Linked DNA regions of Homo sapiens: region 2 is linked to region 1. Evidence: fine-mapped expression QTL. A gene starts in region 1. The other region holds a variant in brackets. All regions are shown on one strand. Distances are from middle to middle. Region 1 holds the start of ACTN4 (actinin alpha 4). Region 2 overlaps ACTN4 (actinin alpha 4).

Region 1 (14,521 bases):
GATGTTTCAATGAACACGAAAACTTAGCAAGTGAGTCATTTCTTCTTGCTGTAATGAGATTTGGCATAACCTTCAAGAGATCTCACCCTTCCAGGACAACAGAGGGTGATGAGGTTACCCAGGCCACTTTTAGAAATTGGGAGAGGGAACTGTGGCCCAGAACTGTAATTGCTCAAGAATTTGCTCAAAGACCAGAACAATGCTTCTCCATCCCGCCAGGAGAACACTCATGGCCCTCTCATGTAAAAACCGTTGCATAACCTACTTACGGGTTACAGGGGTCCCTAGAAGTCAGAGCAAAGGGCTTCCAAGCAGAAGTGAGACACACGTCCCCTCTGATTTGGGCCAACTCTTGCTTAATTCCTAGAAGAATTCAATTCTACCCACTTTGAGGGCCTACAGCTGTTCTGGATGCATATTTTTTTGGAGTATGCATGTACAGAACCCCCAGGACTGTCATTCTTCCCGTGCCCAGTGGCTCAGCCTTGGAGAGGCAAGAAGGGCAATCTGTCATTCACTAAAGCAACACTGCAATGTAGAAAAAACCCAGCCAGTCTGGGTGCAGTGGCTCACTCCTGTAATCCCAGCACTTTGGGAGACCGAGGCGGGCGGATCTCCTGGGGTCGGGAGTTTGAGACCAGCCCGACCAACATGGAGAAACCCCGTCTCTACTAAAAATACAAAAAGCCAGGCGTGGTGGCGCATGCCCGTATTCCCAGCTACTCGGGAGGCTGAGGCAGGAGAATCGCTTGAACCCGGGAGACGGAGGTTGCGGTGAGCCAAGATCACGCCCGGGCAACAAGAGCAAAACTCCGTCTCCAAAAACAAACAAACAAACAAACAAACAACCCAGCCAGCCTGGGAGTGCAGGGATGTTTCTTAGTAGGAAGGTAGAGAGCCACACAGATTGGTGTATTCCTTTCCATTACTCCTTCCCCCATTTCAAAAAGAATCCCTACCCCATAACAGGAAAGGGCACAGAGGTGAAGCAGTAGTTTCCCCCACAGAGCAGCTAAGGGTAAATATTTGCTGGAGGAGGTGTAAAGCAGGAGGTACTAGAATCTGGCTCTGGCTGAGACACGAAAGCAGATGGTATTAGCGGACTCTGTGAGCCACCCTTTTCCCTCAAACCTGCCCGGCCCCAGAGGAAGGGAGCTGGGAGGTAAGAGAATGACACATGGCAGCAAGGCCTGGAGGTTCTGGGGAGTCCTGGTTTCCACCCAGGGCCTGAATGGTGCCCCAGCCTCACCCTGTAGGCAAGGGACACTATAACCACGAACAAAGCCCACACCCTAACTCTCGGGAGGGAGTGAAACCCGGCTCGCAAAAGGAGTCACTTGAGGAGTGGCAGAAGACAGGAAGGGAGAGAAAAGGAAGGTCCCCCCACCCTTATCACCTGAGAAAAAAGGGGGAGGGGTTTATTTTCTCCAGCACCTTCAGCTGCAGAAGACAAAGCCTAGACATTCTCAAAACCACCACTGTGGCCCCTGCTCCCTCCCAACTTTCCAGGTCTCTTGGCAACCTTTTCCAACCTGGCACTGCCTCAGGCAATAAATTATTGTTGAGACTCCAGAACAGATCTCACCTTCCCCTCAAAAAGTGAATTTATGCCAACTATCGCAACCTGTCCATCCTGCAGTAGGTGGGGCCACGGATAAGGACACCCCTCCCACCAAGCCACTGCCATGCCCCTCAGTTACTACGGATGAGGAAATTCAAGCAACGCTGGTAATGGACCCAAGGTTATGCCCGGCCCCACCTCAGGCTGCCTTGGAACAGCTGCTCCTTCCACCCTTCCCACCCTTTCCCCTCCAGCCTGGGCTAGGCTGCCTGTGCCAAGCTCCTGGCCACCAACTCGCGCCCTCGAGAGGCTTCCAGTCACTCCCCACTCTGCCAGGTCACCACTCAAAGCCCTGTAGCCTGTTCCTGAAAAATCTCCACCAAACTCACTCTCCCAAACCTTCAGAGCCCTGTCCAAAGTCCCAACTCTACACACATCCCTCTTTATTAACAGAATCACCGCAGGGAACCCTCGGATCCCTTTGCATTTTGCAGATAACAAAACTGCCCGGAGAGTTCAAGGGTCTTGTCCAAGGCCACAGAGCGAATCAGTAACAAATCTGGAAAGAAAATCCAGATCTCCAGATCCCACGAAATGCTTCCAACTTCAAGTACCTCCCACCCATTTCACGCACAAAACTTCTGAACAACCCCTTCCCCCCACACACACCCACTCACCACGCTCCTTTCTTTAGCTCTTCCTGCACACACTCAGAGCTCCCCCCTCAACCACACTGGATTTATCCCCCCCCCACAGACACTGACACCTCGCTCGGGGATCCCACTCCACTTCTGATCACCTTTTCACTGCTGTGGGGCCCTACCAAGTTGCCCCCCCCGCCCCCCAAAAAAACAGTGCCACCTGAACACAGTCTCTGCTTCAGGATCCCTTCACCTACCTCCGGTCTCTCCAAAAAAGACACAATTCTTCCTGGACACTCTCAACGCTTCCTCCCCAAACTCATTCTGCCTGCACGACACACACACGCTCTCCAGTCCCGGGACTGCACCTCCAGGAGCCAGCACCCCCTCCTCAAATTCCTTTCTCAGTCTATCCATTACGCATTCCCTTTCTAATGAGACTTTCATTTTCCTAAACGAACCTCTCTCCCATTATCCACCATTCCAGCTCACCCTCCCTCCCACCGATCTCACCTTCTCCCTCTACACTTCCTCATTCTCTCCAACGCTTTAGCTTTTCAGCTTCCCATCAATTCTTTAGAAATCCCTCCCCAAATTATCCCCACTCTCCGTATCCCCTCTACTTCGGCTTCTCCATCCCTCATCAATTCCTCTTATTATTCCTCCTATCTCTTAATCTTCTCCCCTTTGGAACAGGGCACCACAAATAAATCTCACCCCCTTCAAAAACGTCTGATTCACGGGCCCCTTAACTTCTTCCTTCCGCACCCCACCCTCCTCAGACCCCCAGTCCTGGCACCTCTACCCTCCTCACACCCTAAGCCCATGTCTTTTCATGCTCAATTCTACCCTTAGCCCCTGTTTTCATCTTCCCAGCCTCCCTAGTCTTCCCACCCGTCTTCAGACCCCACAATCTCCACTCCATCCTCACACTTGATTCTTCATCCCCTTTATAACTCCCCCAACCTGAGGCTCCCCCAATTCCAATCTCCTTCAGATCTTTCTGCTCTCCAAATAACCAACCCCTCCACACTCAAGCTCCTCCTCACACTTCCCAGACCCAGAAATTCCCTTCTCAGCCTCCCCTGATTCTCCTCCCAGCACCCCCAACCCATGCTCCGACCCTTCAAGCCCGCCTCGGATCCCAGTTCCATTTCAGCCTGCCCAGTCATCTCCTCGGTTTCCCCTAATGGCACGCCCAGACCCTCCAAATCCTTCATCAGCCTTCCCGATTCCTTTTATTTGACTCCCATATTCCCCACCCAGCCGCCAATTCTCTTTTCAGATTCCCAATTCCTTCCTCTAGCTCGGCGATTCCTCCTCAGGACTCCAATTCCCTTCCCGGACCCGCCAATTCCTTCTCGGGACCCCCCCGTTCCCATCACAGACGCTCCAGTTACCTTTCAGGACCTCCCACCCCTCCCCGGGCCCCCTCAGAAAAGCCCCTCCAGCCCGTCCGGCCCGCGGGCCGCGCACCTTGCGCTGCTGCTTCTCCCAGGCCGGGTCCAGCAGCAGGTCCCGGTCCCAGTCGTCCTCCTGGGCCATGTAGTCGCCCATGCTGCCCCCGCCGCCAGCGCCATTGCCCGCGCTGCTGGGGCCGTACTGGTACGACTGGTTCGCCGCGTGGTAGTCCACCATTCCGCCGCCTCTCGCTCGCCCACCAGCCTGTCCGCTCCCGCCTCAGCTCCCGCCCCTCTGCCCGAGCCGCCGCCGCTACCGCCGCTTCAGCTGCTTCAGCCCGCCCTCCGCCCGCGCCTGCGCACTGCCCGCCGCGCCTGCGCACAGCGCCGAGGTTGCCGCCCTCCCGCGCGCGCGCGCCTGCCAAACCAGAAAAGGCACCAAGGCCGCGCTCCGGAGCTTGGCGCCTGCGCAGAGTCCCGCTTCCTGGCCGCCCGACTCAGCCCGGGGGCGAGCCGCGCCCCCTCTCCGGCGTGAACGCGCGCGTCGTTCGCGTATGGGCGGGGCCAGATCATGAATGATTCATAAGGGCAGGCCCCGCCATCGGACCTGAACCAGCTCAGGCTTGGAATGCACTGCACCGGGTTCCCATTCAGCGACACAAATTCAACAAATATTTATTGAACACCTATTCTGTGCCAGACTATGTTTTACGCAGGCACTAAAAACAGAAAAAAATCCCAACTTTCATGAAACTACCTTCTAGTAAAGGAAGCCACATACACACAAATCTACTTTTATTTTTATTATTTTTTGAGACGGAGTCTCGCTCTGTCTCCCAGGCTGGAGTGCAGTGGCGCGATCTCGGCTCACTGCAACCTCCGCCTCCCGGATTCAAGCAATTCTCCTGCCTCAGCCTCCCGAGTAGCTGGGAACACAGGCATGCTCCACCACACCCGGCTAATTTTTGTATTTTTTTAGTAGAGACGGGGTTTCACCATGTTGGCCAGGCTGGTCTTGAACTCTTGAGCTCAAGCGATCCTCCCGCCTCAGCCTCCCAAAGTGCTGGAATTACAGGCGTGAGCCACCGCGCCCAACCAACACACAAATTTTTTTTTTTGAGACGGAGTTTCGCTCTTGTTGCCCAGGCTGGAGTGCAATGGCGTGATCTGGGCTCACTGCAACCTCCGCCTCCCAGGTTCAAGCTATTCTCCTGCCTCAGCCTCCCGAGTAGCTGGGATCACAGGCATGTGCCACCACTCCTGGCTAATTTTGTATTTTTAGTAGAGACGGGGTTTCTCCATGTTGGTCAGGCTGGTCTCAAACTCCCGACCTCAGGTGATCCGCCCACCTCGGCCTCCCAAAGTGCTGGGCTTACAGGCATGAGCCACTGCGCCTGGCCTCAACACTCAAAATTTTAAAAAATATGTAGACAGGCACAGGGGCTCACACCTGTAATCCCAGCACTTTGGGAAGCTGAGGCGGGAGGATGGCTTGAGCCCAAGAGTTCAAGGCCAGCCTAGGCAACATAACAAGAACCTGTCTCTACAAGAAATGTAAAAATTCACTGGGCATGGCTGTGTGCACCTGTAGTCCCAGCTACTCAGGAGGCTGAGGAAGGGACATCACTTGAGCCCAGGAGTTCCAGTCTGCAGTGAGCTGTGATCACACCAATGCACTCCAGAAGCGAAATCCTGTCTCAAAAATATACATAAAAGTAAAAAATAGGTAGTATTGTATATTCCAAGGTGTTGAGTATTTGGAGAAAAATCAAGCATGGGCTGGAATGCAAATAAACTACTCAGGTAGGCTTCATGGAGAAGGCAGACATTTAAACAAAGGTGCGAGCCACTGCATCAGGAAGCATCTTAAATTTAAATATTCAGCCAGGCACTGGTGGCTTACTCTTGCAATCCCAGCACTCTGGGGAGTCAAGGCTGGAAGAGTGCTTGAGCCCAAGAGTTTGAGGCCAGACTGGGTAACATAACAAGATCTCATCTCTACAAAAAAATGTTTACATTAAAAATAAATGGCCGGGCGCAGTGGCTCATGCCTGTAATCCCAGCACTTTGGGAGGCCGAGGCAGGCAGATCACGAGGTCAGGAGTTAGAGGCCAGCCTGGCCAACATGGTGAAACCCCGTCTCTACTAAAAATACAAAAATTAGCCGGGCTTGGTGGCATGCACCTGTAATCCCAGCTACCCAGGGGGCTGAGGTAGGGGAATCACTGGAACTCGGGAGGCAGAGGCTGCAGTAAGCCGAGATCGCGCCACTGTACTCCAGCCTGGGCGACAGAGCAAGACTCCGTCTAAAATAAAAATAAAAATAAATAAATAAATATCCGGCCAGGTGTGGTGGCTCACGCCTGTAATCCCAGCACTTTGGGGGGCCGAAGTGGGCGGATCACCCCAGGTCAGGAGTTCAAGACCAGCCGGGCCAACGACTCCGTCTCTACTAAAAATACAAAATTAGCCAGGCATAGTGGCACATGCCTGTAATCCCAGCTACTCAGGAGGCTGAGGTAGGAGAATAGCTTGAACCTGGGAGACGGAGGTTGTGGTGAGCCAAGATTGCACCATTGTACTCCAGCTTGGGCAACAAGAGCGAAACTCCATCTCAAATAATAATAATAATAAATATCCAAAATAGAGTTCCTGATCTTCCCCCCAAGCTTGGTCATCCCATCCCACAGTCATCCCTCTTCAATTCGTGCACCTCCAGCCTTGCAGTTGCTGAGGCTACAGACCTTGCGGTCATCCTTAATGCCTCTTTGTCTTCACAACCCCATCCAGTTCTTCAGGAAATTCTGTCATTCCATCTTGAAAGAATACACAGAACCCACCCACTTCCCCCTGCCCCACTGCGCCACCCAGGTTCTGTCTACCCTCGCCTCGCCTTCCCTTGGGCCATTGCAGCAGTTCCCCACTGTCTCCCAGCTCCCCCTCCCACCCCCTTCTCTTTCCCAGGAGAAGCTGGAGGGAGCCTGTGAATGAATGACTGAGTCAGATCACATTCCTCCCTCCTCTGTTCAAACCTTCCTGTGGCTCCACGCTCAGGGTAACAGTCAAAGTCAAGGAAAGGAAGAAAGGCTGCAGAGGAGTCTGCCCTGCCCTGCCTTGCCCAGCCCAGCCCAGCCCAGCCCAGTGTTTTTTTCCTTTTTTTTTTTTTATTGGAGGTGGAGTCTCGCCCTGTCACCCAGACCAGAGTGTAGTGGCATGATCTCGGCTCACTGCAACCTCCGCATCCCGAGTTCAAGCGATTCTCCTGTCTCAGCCTCCAGAGTAGCTGGGATTACAGGCATATGCCACCATGCCCGGCTAATTTTTATATTTTTAGTAAAGAGGGGTTTTGCCATGTTGGCCAGGCTGGTCTTGAACTCCTGAGCTCAGGTGATCTGCCTGCCTCAGCCTCCCAAAGTGCAGGGATTACGGGCATGAGCCACTCTACCCGGCCAGCCCAGTGTTTTAGTTTTTTGTTTTTGGAGACAGGGTTCTCAATATTTTGCCCAAGTTGAGCTCAGACTCTTGATTCTCCTACCTCAGCCTTCTGAGTAGCTGCGACTGTGAACACGTACCACCACATCCAGCTCAGCCAAGTTTTGTTGATATTGTTCTTGGTGCTGGTGGTGGTGATGGTGTTTGACACAGCAACTCGCTATGTCACCAGGCTGAAGTACAGTGACACCGTTCCAGTTCACTGCAGCCTCAAATTCCTGGGCCCAAATGATCCTCCTGCTTTAGCCTCCCAAGTAGCTGGGACTGCAGGTGCACCCCACCACGCCTGGCTAATTTCTATTTTTTTTTGAGACGGAGTCTCACTCTGTCGCCCAGGCTGGAGTGCAGTGGCACGGTCTTGGCTCACTGCAAGCTCCGCCTCCCTGGTTCACGCCATTCTCATGCCTCAGCCTCCCAAGTAGCTGGGACTACAGGCACCTGCCACCATGCCCAGCTAATTTTTTGTATATTTAGTAGAGACGGGGTTTCACCGTATTAGCCAGGATGGTCTTGATCTCCTGACTTTGTGATCCGCCCACCTCGGCCTCCTAAAGTGCTGGGATTACAGGCGTGAGCCACTGTGCCCGGCAATTGCTAAATTTTTTGTAGAGACAAGTGGTGGGGGTGAGGGGAGTGTGTGGGGGTGGTCTCGCTAGGTTGCTTAGGCTGGCCTGGAACTCCTGGCCTCAAGTGATCCTCCTACCTCAGGGAATGCTGGGATTACAGGCTGGGATTATGTGTGAGCCACCCAAGCCCTGCCTCAACCTAGTTTATGAAACAGTTTAGAGTCAGCTAGCATGGTGGCTCACACCTGTAATCCCAGCACTTTGGGAGGCTGAGGCGGGCAGATCACTTGACACCAGGAGTTTGAGAACAGCCTGGACGACATAATGAAATCCCGTCTTTACTAAAAATACAAAAATTAGCCGGGTGTGGAGGTGCACGCCTATAATCCCAACTACTCGGGTGGCTGAGGCAGGAGAATTGCTTGAACCTGGGAGGTGGAGGTTACAATGAGCTGAGATCACGGCACTGCACTCCAGCCTGGGTGACAGAGCAAGACTGTCTCAAAAAAAAAAAAAGCCTTCGAGTACCCCCCACCTTGCTGTCCCTCAAGCACACCAGGTGCCAAACTCAGCCTCTGATGAGGCCTTTGTACTTGTGAGGTGGAGTCACGACTCCCAGGAACACTTTCCCCAGACACTGAGTCCCTAGGGCTCACAGCCCCATTTCCTATAGGTCTCTGTGGAAATACCACATCCTCAGTGAGACTTTCCCGGATCACCTGATTTAAAATATCATCCCATCGGGCATGGGATGTTCAAGGCCAGCCTGGCAAACATGGTGAAACCCTGTCTCTACAAAAAATACAAAAGATTAGCCAAGTGTGGTGTTGCATGCCAGTGGTCCCAGCTACCTGGAGGGCTGAGGCAGGAGGATCACTTGAGCCCAGGAGGTCGAGGTTGCAGTGAGCTGAGATCGCACCACTGCACTTCAGCCTGGGTGACAAAGTGAGAACCTGTCTCAAAAATATAAATAAAATAAAATATTGCCAGGTGCGGTGGCTCACGCCTGTAATCTCAGCACTTCCGGAGGCCGAGGCAGGCGGATCACAAGGTCAGGAGATCGAGACCATCCTGGCTAACATGGTAAAACCCCGTTTCTACTAAAAATACAAAAAATTAGCTGGGTGTGGTGTCACGCGCCTGTAGTCCCAGCTACTCAGGAGGCTGAGGCAGGAGAATCACTTGAACCCAGGGGGCAGAAGTTGCGGTGAGCTGAGATCGCACCACTGCACTCCAGCCTGGGCAACAGAGGGAGACTCTGTCTCAAAAAAAAAAAAAAAAAAAAAAAAAACCAACCACCATGGTTTATGGTTTCTCCAGCTATGGGAGTTGCAAGGATCCTTCTCTGCTTCTCTGCCTCTGCCAAAGGAACGCGAAGGGATGGATCCAGTGACAGCAGAGGAAGGGGACGAGGCCCAGGCAGCAGCCCGATGTCCTAGGAGATGCCAGGACCTGGCCAAAGACCCCCAGGCGTGTTGGCTGTTTCCAGAGCTGGGCTGGAGTGGGGCAGGGCAGGGCGGTCTCCTCCAGCCTGACTTGAAGAACTAGCTCAGGACTCTTATGCATGGTCTGGCCTGGGGGAAAAACTCCTCAGGGGATGGGCCATCTGCCCCTCGCTGCAGCTCCTGGTGGACTCTGAGAAACCGTCCAGACCAAGTGCTCCCAGATGGAGGCGACAGCCCCAGCCATTGAAGTTTAAATTAAAGCCTCCCTTTAATTGTCAGCCTTGAGGCTACTTCCTGGCAGCCATCTATGGGCAGTGTAGTAATAATAGCTGATGTGTCTATTGATGTCCAAGGGACCAGGAGGGGCTCTGAGAGAAGGGGTATGGCCAGTGGGCCCTACAGGCGTTTTTAGGTTTACCATTGAACCCGTGAGACCTCAGTCAGAATTTATTAAATGCTGTATCCCATTGTTAACACTACTTCAGGGAAGGCAACTAGAGAGGGTGTGTCCTCACAGGGCGGGGACATGAACAAATACTGCAATGTCTAGAGATGTCTCAGGAAGCAGCTGGAGCAGCAGCCCTGAACCCCAAGTGAGCATGACAAGCACCCACCAGGATGGAATTTGGAGACAGAACCAATTTGAGTTTCTTTTATTTTTATTTATTTATTTATTTATTTTGAGATGGAGTCTCGCTCTGTCACCCAGGCTGGAGTGCAGTGGCACAATCTTGGCTCACTGCAACCTCCACCTCCCGGGTTCAAGCAATTCTCCCACCTCAAGTGTCCTGAGTAGCTGGGATTACAGGCACGCGCCACCAGGCCTGGCTATTTTTTTTTTTTTTAAGACAGAGTTTCGCTCTTGTTGCCCAGGCTGGAGTGCAATGGCGCGATCTCGGCTCACCCCAACCTCCACCTCCCAGGCTCAAGTGATTCTCCTGCCTCAGCCTCCCGAGTAGCTGGGATTACAGGCGTGCGCCACCACGCCTGGTTAATTTTGTATTTTTAGTAGAGACGGGGTTTCTCCATGTTGGTTAGGCTGATCTTGAACTCCTGACCTCAGTTGATCCATCCGCCTCGGCCTCCCAAAGTGCTGGGATTACGGGCATGAGCCACTGCGCCCCGGCTATTTTTTAATTTATTATTTATTTATTTATTATTAGTTTTTGAGACGGAGTCTCACTCTGTTGCCCAGGCTGGAGTGCAATGGCATGATCTTGGCTCACTGCAACCTCTGCCTCCCGGGTTCAAGCGATTCTCTTGTCTCAGCCTCCCGAATAGCTGAGACTACAGGCATGCGCCACCACACACAGCTAATTTTTGTGTTTTTTAGTAGAGATGGGGTTTCACTATATTGGACAGGCTGGTCTTGAACTCCTGACCTCATGATCCGCCCACTTCAGCCTCCCAAAGTGCTGGGATTATAGGAGTGAGACACCACGCCCAGCTTATTTTTTTGAGACAAGGTCTCACTCTGTCGTCCAGGCTGAAGTGCAATGGCGTGATCTCAGCTCACTGCAACCTCCACCTCCCTGGTTCAAGCTATTCTCCTGCCTCAGCCTCCTGAGTAGCTGGGATTACAGGCACCCGCCACCAAGCCCAGCTAATTTTTGTATTTTTAGTAGAGGTGGGGTTTCACCACGTTGGCCAGGCTGGTCTCGAACTCCTGGCCTCAGATGATCCACGCGCCTTGGCCTCCAAAGTGCTGAGATTACAGGCGTGAGCCACTGCACCCACCAAGCTGTTCTAAACTCTTTGCAGGCATTAACTACTGACGTGGGTACAATTACTACTTTCCCCAGCTGTAAAACAGGTACAGAGAAGACAACTCACATACCCTGAGGCGGCTGGGCTGGGGAGTGAACTCAGGCAGTTTTTCTCCAGAGCCACCTCCTAGCTGTTCGGAGTATGAATGACCCTCTGATAGTGAAAGCAGCCCAGTGAGGCAGGATGAGATGTGGCTCCCAGAGGAGGGGAAAAAGGTCATTTCCTCTTCCCTTGCAGAGCAGCCATGGCCAATTGTGCAGGTTGTATCCTGCATAAGGGCACCTGCCAAGTGGGTAACTGGGAGTTGTCCCCACCCAGAAGGGGTGCCTTTTGCTAATGTGCCCAAGTTCATGGGTGGTAGAGGCATCCCAGTCCTTTTTATTATTATTTTTTTGAGGCAGTTTCGCTCTTGTTGCCCAGGCTGGAGTGCAATGGCGCGATCTCGGGTCACTGCAACTTCTGCCTCCCGGGTTCAAGCGATTCTCCTGCCTCACCCTCCCAAGTAGCTGGGAATACAGGCGCCCGCCACCACGCCCGGCTAATTTTGTATTTTTAGTAGAGACGGGGTTTCACCATGTTGGTCAGGCTGTTCTCAAACTCCTGACCTCAGGTGATCTGCCTACCTCGGCCTCCCAAAGTGCTGGGATTACAGGCATGAGCCACTGTGCCAGGCCTCCCAGTCCTTTTTATCCCAGTGAGCTGCAGAGGCACACTTTTGTTCAGTCCCCAGGATTTAGGCACTCCCTGGCTACTGGGGCCCTGCTGAGGTCTGGGCCCCAGGGCAAGGGGTGTCTGCTCCCACAGGCAGGGCCCTCTGAGGAATGCTGGCTGTGAGTGCACACAGGGAGGTCAGGCCGGCTGGCAGCTTGGGTACCACAGCTGCCCTCTCCAAGGCAACGCTTATGCACACCAGCATCCATCAATAAATCACCAAGGGGCAGCTGCCAGTCTACTCTAAGTAATGAACATCTATTAGGGCATTTCTTTTCCTTTTTTGGAGACAGGGTCTTGCTGTCACCTGGGCTGGTGTGCAGTGGTGCAATCATAGCTCATTGCAGCCTCAAACTCCTGGGTAGCCAGGACTACAGGCACATACCACTGTGCCTGGCTAATTTTTACTTACTTACTTTTTTTTTTTAATTTATTTTTTTGAGACGGAGTCTAGCTCTGTCGCCCAGGCTGGAGTGCAGTGGTGCGATCTCAGCTCACTGCAAGCTCCGCCTCCCGGGTTCATGCCATTCTCCTGCCTCAGCCTCCAGAGTAGCTGGGACTACAGGCGCCTGCCTAATTTTTTTGTAGTTTTAGTAGAGACGGGGTTTCACCGTGTTAGCTAGGATGGTCTCGATCTCCTGACCTCGTGATCTGCCCACTTCGGCCTCCCAAAGTGCTGGGATTACAGGCGTGAGCCACCGCGCCTGGCCAACTTACTTATTTTTGAGACAGGGTCTCACTCTGTTACCCAGGCTGGAGTGCAGTGACGCCATCTTGGCTCACTGCAACCTCTGCCTCCCAGGCTCAAGTGATCCTCCCACCTTAGCCTCCAGAGTAGCTGGGATTACATGTGTGTACCACCATGCCTGGCTATTTTCTTTTGTAGTTTTTTGTAGAGACAGGGTTTCACCATGTTGCCCAGACTCGCCTCGAACTCCTGAGGTCAAGCAATCCATCTGCCTTGGCTTCCCAGTGTTGGGATTACAGGCGTGAGCCACTGTGCCTGGCCAGGCCCAGTTAATTTTAAAACTTTTATAGGAACAGGGTCTCGCTTTGTTGACCTGGTCTCGAACTCCTGGCTTTCAGCAATCCTCCTGCTGCAGCCTCCCACTGTTGGAATTACATGCATGGACCGCCATGCCCAACCTGAGCTAATTTTTACTTTTGCGTAGAGGGATTCCAGTCATCCTCCTCCCTTAGCCTCCCAAAGTGCTGGGATTACAGGCATAAACCAGCCTCTACTGGGTCTTTTTAATTCCTGCATTCCCCCAACCCCCTAGCCCTCCAGGCAATATGCTCACAGGGGAAAAGCACTGCCTAAGGGCCACTGGGAGTGCCCCAAATTCCTCAGGTAAGAAGGGAATGAACATGTAAGGTGAGTCAGGTCTCCTGTCAGGTAACACTAACCAGGGGAGCGGCATGCGACTTGGAAAGAATGGTGTGGCTGAAGGAGCTGTCTACCTATGACACCTTGAGAGGAAAAAATATATATATACTAATTTTCTCATGAAGTCTCTCCATACAGAATAGTACTGAGGACTAGCTTGCAACCTTGGTGACAAACACTTCTGAGCCTGAAATTAACAATGGCTTATATTTTCTTTTTTGAGACAGGGTCTGTCACCCAAGCTGGAGTGCAGTGGTGTGATCACAGCTCACTGCAGCCTTGACCTCCTGGGCTCAGGTGATTTGCCGACCTCAGCCTCCTAAATAGCTGGGACTACAGACACGCGCCACCATGCCTAGCTATTTAAAATAAACTTTTTGGTCAGGCGCGGTGGCTCACGTGTGTATTCCTAGCACTTTGGGAGGTCGAAGCAGGGAGACTGCCTGAGCCCAAGAGTTCGAGACCAGCCTGGGCAACACGATGAAACCCCATCTCTACTAAAATACAAAAAAATTAGCCGGGCGTGGAGGTGTGTGCCTGTAGTCCCAGTTACTTGGGAGGCTGAGGCAGAAGAATTGCTTCAACCTGGGAGGCAAAGGTTGCAGTGAGCTGAGATCGCGCCACTGCACTCCAGCCTGGGCGACAGAGTGAGACTCTGTCTCTAAAAAAAAAAAAAAGAAAAAGAAAAAGAAAAAAAAAAAATATATATATATATATATATATATATATTGAGACGGAGTCCCACTCTGTCGCCCAGGCTGGTCTCAAACTCTGGCCAAGCAATCCTCCTGCTTTGGCCTCCTAAAGTGTTGGGATTACAGGCGTGAACCACTGCACCCGGCCTGTGGCTCACATTTTCTAAGAGCAAGGACAGGACAGGACAGGCCCCAATCTCAGGCCTTTACTGGCAAGGGCCGGAGAAACCCTCACAGGTTTCAGAAGGGTGCATTATTCTTCCCCTTCTGCAGATGAAGAAACTGAGAATTAGAGAGGCACAATCCCGGCTGGGCGCGGTGGCTCACGCCTGTAATCCCAGTACTTTGGGAGGCCGAGGCAGGCAGATTACAAGGTCAGGAGATCAAGACCATCCTGGCTAACACGGTGAAACCCTGTCTACTAAAAATACAAGAAATTGGCCGAGCATGGTGGCGGGCGCCTGTAGTCCCAGCTACTCTGGAGGCTGAGGCAGGAGAATGGCATAAACCCGGGAGGTGGAGCGTGCAGTGAGCCGAGATCGCGCGACTGCACTCCAGCCTGGGCGACAGAGCGAGACTTCGTCTAAAAAAAAAAGAGGCACAGTCCCTTGACCAAGGTCACAAAGCAAGAGCCACCATCAAGACAGAGGGAAACTTCACCTTCACTCCTCCCAGAGGTGCTCAGCCTCCACCACAGGGCTGGGCTGCCACATCCCATTCATACTCCCTCCTCCTTGCTGACTCAATGCTGCCCTCCCCACCCAAGACCTAAAAGGTCAGGAAGGTAGGGTGGGGCAAGGGAGGAAGTCGAAGCAGGGGAAAAAGGAGGCGGAAACCCCGCCATGGGGTGTGGTGT
Region 2 (8,000 bases), 50 kb before region 1:
GTGGCACAACGCTGTTCCCCCACTAAAGATACCTCCGCCCCGCCATGTAGCCAACCCTGGGCACCCCTCAAAAGTCAGGCCAAATGCCGTGCCTGGAGGGTACCCGCACCATGGCCTCCCTGACCCGGTTCTGCCTCAGACAGCCTCCTCCCTGCAGACCACATCACGCCCTTGCTCTCTGGTCTCTAACAGTTCTTGTCTCCAACAGTTCTTGTCTCCCTCCCTCCCACGGCTATGAACTCCTTGAGGGGAGGGGAGCCAAGGCAGGTTCTCACTGCGGAGAGTACTAACTCACCTTCCCAGCCTCCCCCATACAATACTGAATTCAGAGAGCCCAGGGCGGGAACCATGCTTACACCACTCATGTGGGCACGTCACCTAACCTTCCTAACTTCCATTTCCTCCTCTGCAACGTGGGGATGAAGACCCCACCTAGGCCACGGGCAGTGTGAGGACTCAAGATGGCCATGCCTGCAGCGTGCATGGCAATGCTCAGGAAGTGGCAGCTCTCTGGATGGCCCTGTGCCTCCCAGCATCTCCTCCCTCCCTGCCCTGGTCTCAGGAGTCCTGCCCACCCCCTCCACAGTGTGCCTGCTCTGTCCCCGGCCCACCCTCAGCACCTCTCCCGTAGCAACCCCCAGTCACTTTTAGTCTTATTGGATGTTGCATGCACATGAGCTTTCTCTCCTACCATGTGCGAGCTCCAGGGGTTGGGAAGTACGGCGCCTGCACCTTTACAGCCCCAGAGCACTGCCAGCCTTGATGGCAGGCAGCAAGCAGGCGTGGAGCCCAGGAGCCCAGCAGCCCTGCAGAGCAAAGGGCAGCAGCAAATGGGCTGGGAAGGAAGTGGCCACGGATGCTAGGCCTCTACTCTCACATGTGCCTGAGAGCAGGCACTGCTGGGCAGCAAAGTAGCCAAGACACATCCCACAGCCTGAGGACAAAAGAGGGCTGTTCCCCGAGGGCAAGGCCCCGTGCTCTGGTGTTGCCAGGCCCAGACCTAGGCACCTGGGCTGCAGGGAGGGCCACGCACGCGTGCAAACAGCACCCCTCACAGCCTTGGCCTGTGTGGGCTGCTCCTGCAGGCTCTGCAGGGGCACAGACCTGGGTTTGGGTTTGAATACCTGCCCCTTGGCTTACTCATTCCATGTTTTCAACCAAGTGACTTTACCTACTTAAGTCTGTTTCCTTCCCTGTAAGATGGATTTATCAGAATCTACCTCCTGCAGTGTGCTCTAAGAATTAAACTAGGGAAAATACATTTAAAGCATGTGACAGGCTCCTTGGCATAAAGTAAGAGCCAGATGAATCACACGCATGTGTGTGCATGTACACACGCACATAAGCACGTGCTGAGATCCAGTCTCTTCTCTGCAAAGGCTCTCAGACCACCCACTGGTATGCAGGGAAAATGGGATGGCAGGAGACCCTCTGCGGATGGCCCCACCCCACCCTGTGGAGGCTGTGAACAAACCTCGCCGCTTGGGTTCTGGCCACCTGTCCTCAGAGGGGCTGCTGCCCTACCCGCCCTCCATACGTACATCCCACCTGTGCTCATCTTCTCTGGGTAGTAAACAAGAGCTCTGGCTTGGGCATCACACAGGTGCGGATTCACATCTTGCTTCTGCCACTGAGGCCTCAGGCAAGCAATAAGCCTCAGTTTCCTCACTGATAAACAGGACAGTAACCGAGAGGTTAAGATAGGGATTAAACACAAGGACACATGTCAATCACTCCGTGCTGTGTTAAATGCATGTCAAAGGAAGGTTTGCTCTGAAAGCAATGGTAACTCTTCCGTGTACTCTGTCTTCCTGACTGACACAGGCAAAGCCCCAAGCACAGGTGCTCAGGGAGGATGCCCACTCGCCTGGCCTGGATGACGCAGAAGGGAACTCCCACCCAGATCCGGACCTGACACAGGCTTGGGGAACCCCACTGATGCACTCCTGTTCTCACCCCATGTCTTGCTTTGCCCTGTTTTGTCCTCCTGGAAGATGAGGGGCATCTATTGACATCAGAGGTTCACAAAGCCCTCAGCTCTGGTGAGGAGAGCCTGCACTCACAAGGCCACCCTTGGGAACAGGTCGACCATGACGGCCACTTCTCCATGCGGAGAGACTGGTGAGTAGGAGCTGGAGTTCGAATGGGACATTAAAAATTCATCGCTTCTTCTACTTGGTTACAAAAATAACACTCTGCTTCCATCCTTCCTCTCCCTACCCGGTTTAGACTACGCTGCGTGGGGTGGATGGTGTGGAGAGGTGGTTTCTATAGATGGGGGCCCTATGCGCCCACCACGCCGCCCTCCACCATGCAAAATTCTCAGAATGTGGGCAGCCGACCTCATGATGCCCCAGGCCACCATGGGTCCGTACATATTCATTCTCTGGACAAGCATATGCTGGGGGTCAGCAGAGGGCCAGGCCCTGTGCTGAATCCATAACAGTGAGCAAAAGCAGACACTCTCATGAGGCTCCAGGTCTGATCTCATTAATCAAGCGATCAGTCCACTCCAGAAATAACGCCCTTAGGAAAAGTGGTAATAATAACAGCAATAACTGCAGCAGACACTTCCATAGAGTCTACTAGGGGCGGGCACTGCTCGAGGCACTTGGTCACTTACTAATTCTGTCACCCTCGTAATCATCTCTGGAGGGAGGTGCTAGTACTGCCTCCATTTTGCAGATGAGGAAACGGAGGGCCTGAGAGGTGAAGTGGCTTGCTCCCATCAGTCACACACCTAGAAAGTTACAGAGCTGGGTTTAAAGCCAGGTGCTGGGCTCCTGGGGCCGAGTTTGTGTCACCTCCCCTGGGATGGGAGCTGAAGAGTGCGGTCAGCATGGTGGCGGGGTGGGGGGGCACCAAGCGACTGGTGAGGCAGACACAGAAAGGTGTCCTTGAAGAAGTCATTCTCAAACTCTGAGCTGAAGGATGAGGAGTTAATAAGATAAAAATGAGGGAGACCTTCCAGATACTGGGAAGAGCATGTGCCAAAGCCCTCCTGCAGAAGGGACAGAGCCCACTCCGAGAAGGAAGGGAGTAAAGAAGTGAGGCTGGCATGCTGGCCTCACAAAGCCATTAAACGGTCATGCTGTCCCTGCCATGCAGGGAAAGAGCCGAAGGGGACAAGGGTCAATGTGTGATGGCCAGGAATAAAGCAGGGTGAAGAGCCCCTGAGAGAAACTTCCTCCCCCTGGCAGGAAGAGGAAGGCAGAGGTGCCCT[G/T]CCGGCACGCCAAAGAAGAAATGCAAACTCAAGGTTTCTATTTCATTTGGGAGGAACCAGAGCTGCCAGCCCTCTGTGGGAGGAGGGAAAGGCAAAAAGCATCGAGCTCTCCTGGGCTTCATGATCGCGGTCATCTTCCAGGGGCAGCAGCGACTCTGACTGTCCAGAACGTGGCAGTGGCCATGCCCTCAGGACCGCAACTAAGAGGCATGCACCTGCCTCACAAATACTGACTTGGAGCCCTATTATGTACTGGACACAGGAGGAAGCAAAACAGTTATCATTTACATTCTGGCCAGCCAGGCATGGTGGCACACACCATGTAATCCCAGCACTTTAGGAGGCCGAGGCGGGAGGATTGCTTTAGCACAGGAGTTTGAGATCAGCCTAGGCAACATGGCAAAACCCCATCTCTACAAAAACTACAAAAATTAGCCAGGCGTGGTACTGAGCGCCTGTAGTCCCAGCTACTCGAGAGGCTGAGGTGGGAAGACAGCTTGTGCCTGAGAGGCAGAGGTTGCAGTAAGCTGAGATTGTGTTAGTGCACTCCAGCCTCGGTGACAGAGCCAGACCCTGTCTCAACCCGCCCCCCCGCAAAATTACATTCAGCACGGGGGTGCGGGGGGCATGACATATTAAAGGTAATTATGCTATAACGGCTAATTGCTAGTTCTTACTATTTACACATTAGCAACTCTTTAAAACCTCCAACCCCATGATCACATGCGATATATCTCCATTTGATGAGGAAACTGAGGCAGGGAGAGGTTCAGTGACTTGCTTAATGTCACACAGACACAGATGATACATACAAACACGGGGTGGGCATTCATTCCACGATGTCTGAGTAGAATGGGAGGTGCTGGCCAGTGAGGGAGAGACAGCAGAGTCAGGTCAAGAAGCCCCCAGCCAGGGCCGGGCGCAGTGGCTCGCACCTGTAATCCCAGCACTTTGGGAGGCCGAGGCGGGCGGATCACTTGAGGTCAGGAGTTCAAGACCAGCCTGGCCAACATGGTGAAACCTCGTCTCTACTAAAAATACAAAAATTACCTGGGCGTGGTGGCGGGCTCCTATAAACCCAGCTACTCGGGAAGCTGAGACAGGAGAATCGCTTGAACCTGGGAGGTAGAGGTTGCAGTGAGCCAAGATCGCGCCACTGCACTCCAGCCTGGGAGACAGAGTAAGACTCGGTTTCAAAAAAAAAAAAAGAAGGCCCCAGCCCACCCTTGGTCCCCAAGCTAGAGGTAAACTCAGAGAACAAGGCAGGCAGGCAGAGCAACGCCCCAGCAGATCACCCGCTTCGCAAAAGGTGGCCCCGCTCCTCCCAGCCTGTCCCTGGCCCTCCTGTGAAGGCAGCCTGCACCCAGCCCTTGACCTATCTAGGGAGGAAGGAAGGATGTGGACTCATCTGTCTTTGAGAACACATGTGAACCAAACCACAGAGAGGAGGCTTCAGAGCTTGCCCCTGCACACGGGCAGCCTATTAAAGAGGCTTCTCTGGTTGCTAAAATAGCACAGGGTGTGAGTGCGGGGAAGGGGGGTGGAAGAACAGAGAAAGGCAAGCTTGTCAGTTGAGTTGGGATCCACTGTCACCCCTCCGTGTGCCAAGGCCCATGGTGACCCAGCTAAGGCGGGCTTCAGGGGGCCCCAAGAGCAGTTTCTGCTTTGTCACTGTGGGCTGCAGGAGGGAGACGGAGACCTAGCATCTCTGGTCATAAAGTCCTTCCTGCGTCACAGGGACCCCTCCCAGCCGCCAGGATGTGGGGCGGTAGGTGAATGAATGATGGATATTGTTCAGGAGGTGACCTAAGCACCCAGGAATGTGGCAGCAGTGGGCTTTAATGAGCCATTCATCAATGATTCCCTCCCTCAACCCGAAGAGGCAAAGCCCTCTCTACTCTGGGGCGCTGATTAAGAAACAAACATTCGGCAGACACAGGGCAACCGAGTGGTTCCAGTGGGCAGAGCGATGGTGAGCTGGAGGGAAGAAAGGGCCTTGGTGGGATGCGGCTGACCCAGCTGAACAAACTCGCCTTCTCTTTTCTTCCTGCCTTCCTGTTACAAAACATGTTCTCAGAACTGAAGGGGGTGGAGGGAAATGGCTGTTGGAAGCTGGAATTCCACTAAGCCCAGAATAAAGGGAGTCTCTTGCAAAGTCGCTTTGGGCCTAGAAATAGGCTCGAGCGATCCCTCAGGAGGGGTGAGCATGCCGGCTCTGCACTGTGTAGCACATGATCCAGACTGGATCGCAGGCTTCACTCTCCCCACCCACCAGGCTGATGCTCACATGTGGATTCCACGGACCCCACGCTTGACAAGATTTTAGAAAAAAACGTTTGCTGCCTCATGCCGCAACCCTCTTCTGCCGTGTACACTGCCCACCCGCCTAGCAGGATATCACCCAGGAGGACCAGCCTGCATGCATTTTGCCCAGGCTCAGGGTTGACTGCAACTGGCCACAGCCAGCCCCAACCCCAGGTACCCGGAGGCCAGACGGAGCTCCCTAGCACCCTGGGAGTTTTCAAACCTTGGCTCTGAAATACCGTGTAGGGTTTGTCGCTCCGCTGGGGCATCAGTTGCTTTGAGGGGGAGGGCGCCGTCCCACCTCCTGAACTTCCACCTTGCCTGCTGTGGCCTCTGACGCTGCCCATGGTTCCTGCTTCCATGGGTCCTAGGGAAGGGTGTCCAGGGCTTGGACACAGGGGAGGTACAGCTATTTATTCCTGGGTAGGCTTATCACCTGGGTAGGCCTTCTTATCACCCATCTGGCAGGCTATTGCCAGACCTCAGGCAAGGCCTAGCCCCACTGGGGCATCTTTTCAGTTCCTGAAAGCAGAAACGGCTCCCCAGCCCATGGGCTTCATCACCAACTATAAAGGCGCTTTCAGGGCCAGACGGCTAAGCCTTCTGGAATCTGGGTTACCAGCGGCACAGGCAGAGATGCTCGCCCTGGCAAGGGGGCCCGTGGAGCCTCTGGCCTGTGAGACTGCACACCTGAGCACTTTTTGAAGATCCACTGCCACCAGATTCTGAAGGAGATAAAAGCCAGGAAGCAGGTTGAAAGAACAGAAAACGAGCAGGTCACAATAACACAGCCACAAATTAGATGGGTGCAGCAACGTGGGACGCAGACAGCCCTACTGCCCAGGCAATCAGGGCTAGCACTGCGGCAGTTCAGCGACACACGGGGCAGCCTGTCCAGGACCCAACCCCAGCCAGGGGCAAAGCAAGTGCACTGTGTGTGCCTGTTACATGACGACATAACCTAATTTGAAAGCAATTACAGTGAAATATGGAATGCGTCTTATGTCCTGGCCTGAAGTTGCCTTATTCGGAGTTTTCTCAGCCTGCATGAAAAAGCTCTGACTTCGCAGTTGGAGAAGAGGTATAAATACTGCTGAGTGGGGTAGCGAGCATTCCAAAGGTCCTGCGTGTCCACCCAGAAACCAGCTCTTTGCACCCGGCCCCCTCCCTGCAGCCAGTGTTCCAGTCTTGGACAATCCCCTTTGAGGTGCCAGAAAGCGTGCGTGTTGCTGCTGCAAAGGACGGATTTTGTTTGTTTGTTTGTTTTGAGACAGAGTCTCGCTGTGTCGCCAGGTTGGAGTGCGGTGGCATGATCTCGGCTCACTGCAGCCTCCACCTCCCGGGTTCAAGTGATTCTCCTGCCTCAGCCTCCCGAGTAGCTGGCATTACAGGCACCCACCATCACACCCGGCTAATTTTTATATTTTCAGTAGAGACGGGTTTCTGCCATGTTGGCCAGGCTGGTCTCGAACTCCTGATCTCAGGTAATCCACCCGCCTCAGCCTCCCAAAGTGCTGGGATTACAGGCGTGAGCCACCGCGCCAGGCCAAAGGATGGATTTTGGAGTGCTGTCTCCTCCTCATGAGAAATACTGGTCTAAGACTTTCGTCTAGCTCTTTATAGAGCTGGTTTTGTCTCATCACTCAGGACTTGCCTCAAATGTCAGCAACCCAGGAGGCCTTCCTGGACTCTGTCATCTCCCCTAGGCTATCACTCCACTCTGCGTTGTTGGGTTTTTTTTTTTGTTTTTTTTGTTTTTTTTTTTTTGAGACGGAGTTTCACTTTTGTTGCCCAGGCTGGAGTGCAATGGCATGATCTCAGCTCAACGCAACTTCTGCCTCCTGAGTTCAAGCTATTCTCTGGCCTCAGCCTCCCGAGTAGCTGGGATTACAGGCCTGGCTAATTTTTTATTTTTAGTAGAGACGGAGTTTCTCCATGTTGGTCAGGCTAGTCTCGAACTCCCAACCTCAGGTGATCCGCCCACCTCGGCCTCCCAAAGTGCTGGAATTACAGGCGTGAGCCAACACACCCGGCCTCACACTGCATTGTTTTACTCACTGCACTTTTCATCATCAAAAACTATGTTCTTTGTTCATAACCAGTCTCCCTCCCAAGTGCAGCATAAGCTCCCCAGAGGAGGGTTCTGTTTGCTGTGGGAACCCACTGCCTGGACTGGTACCTTTCACATAGCAGGTACTCAACAAATCTAGGAGTGAGTGGAATCAGGTTGCGGCATCTCGCATCCAGCTTTTCTTTCTCTCCCTCTCTTTCATGTACTCTTTAAATATGTACATAATTTGGAGAATCAATTTTTAAAAATTGAAATGTAATTCACATAACATACCAAAAAATTCACCCTTTTACATAAAATTCAGGGAGTTTTAGTATATTCACAAGATCGTGCAACAATCACCACTAATTCCAGAACAAGGCTAGGCAAGGTGGCTCACGCCTGTAATCCCAGCACTTTGGG

The links.
Region 2: its variant is fine-mapped to the expression of ACTN4 in whole blood (TOPMed, PIP 0.98).

What each region holds. Positions count from the first base shown.
Region 1 is chr19:38,637,065-38,651,585 of GRCh38, reverse strand. It overlaps ACTN4 (actinin alpha 4), which reads right to left and starts at 3,937. Exons shown (of 21, transcript NM_004924.6): 1 at 3,679-3,937. The coding sequence starts at 3,840. RefSeq lists enhancers at 1,255-1,334, 1,963-2,257, 10,983-11,921, 14,229-14,368, 13,802-14,521 and silencers at 1,963-2,257, 2,216-2,414, 3,598-3,677, 3,908-4,097.
Region 2 is chr19:38,690,696-38,698,695 of GRCh38, reverse strand. All of the region lies in intron 1 of ACTN4 (actinin alpha 4), which reads right to left. Among named protein-coding and RNA genes, the nearest start is that of ACTN4, 47 kb to the right of the region's middle. RefSeq lists enhancers at 4,357-4,416, 4,386-4,977. The variant G/T (reference allele first, on the strand shown) is at 3,224.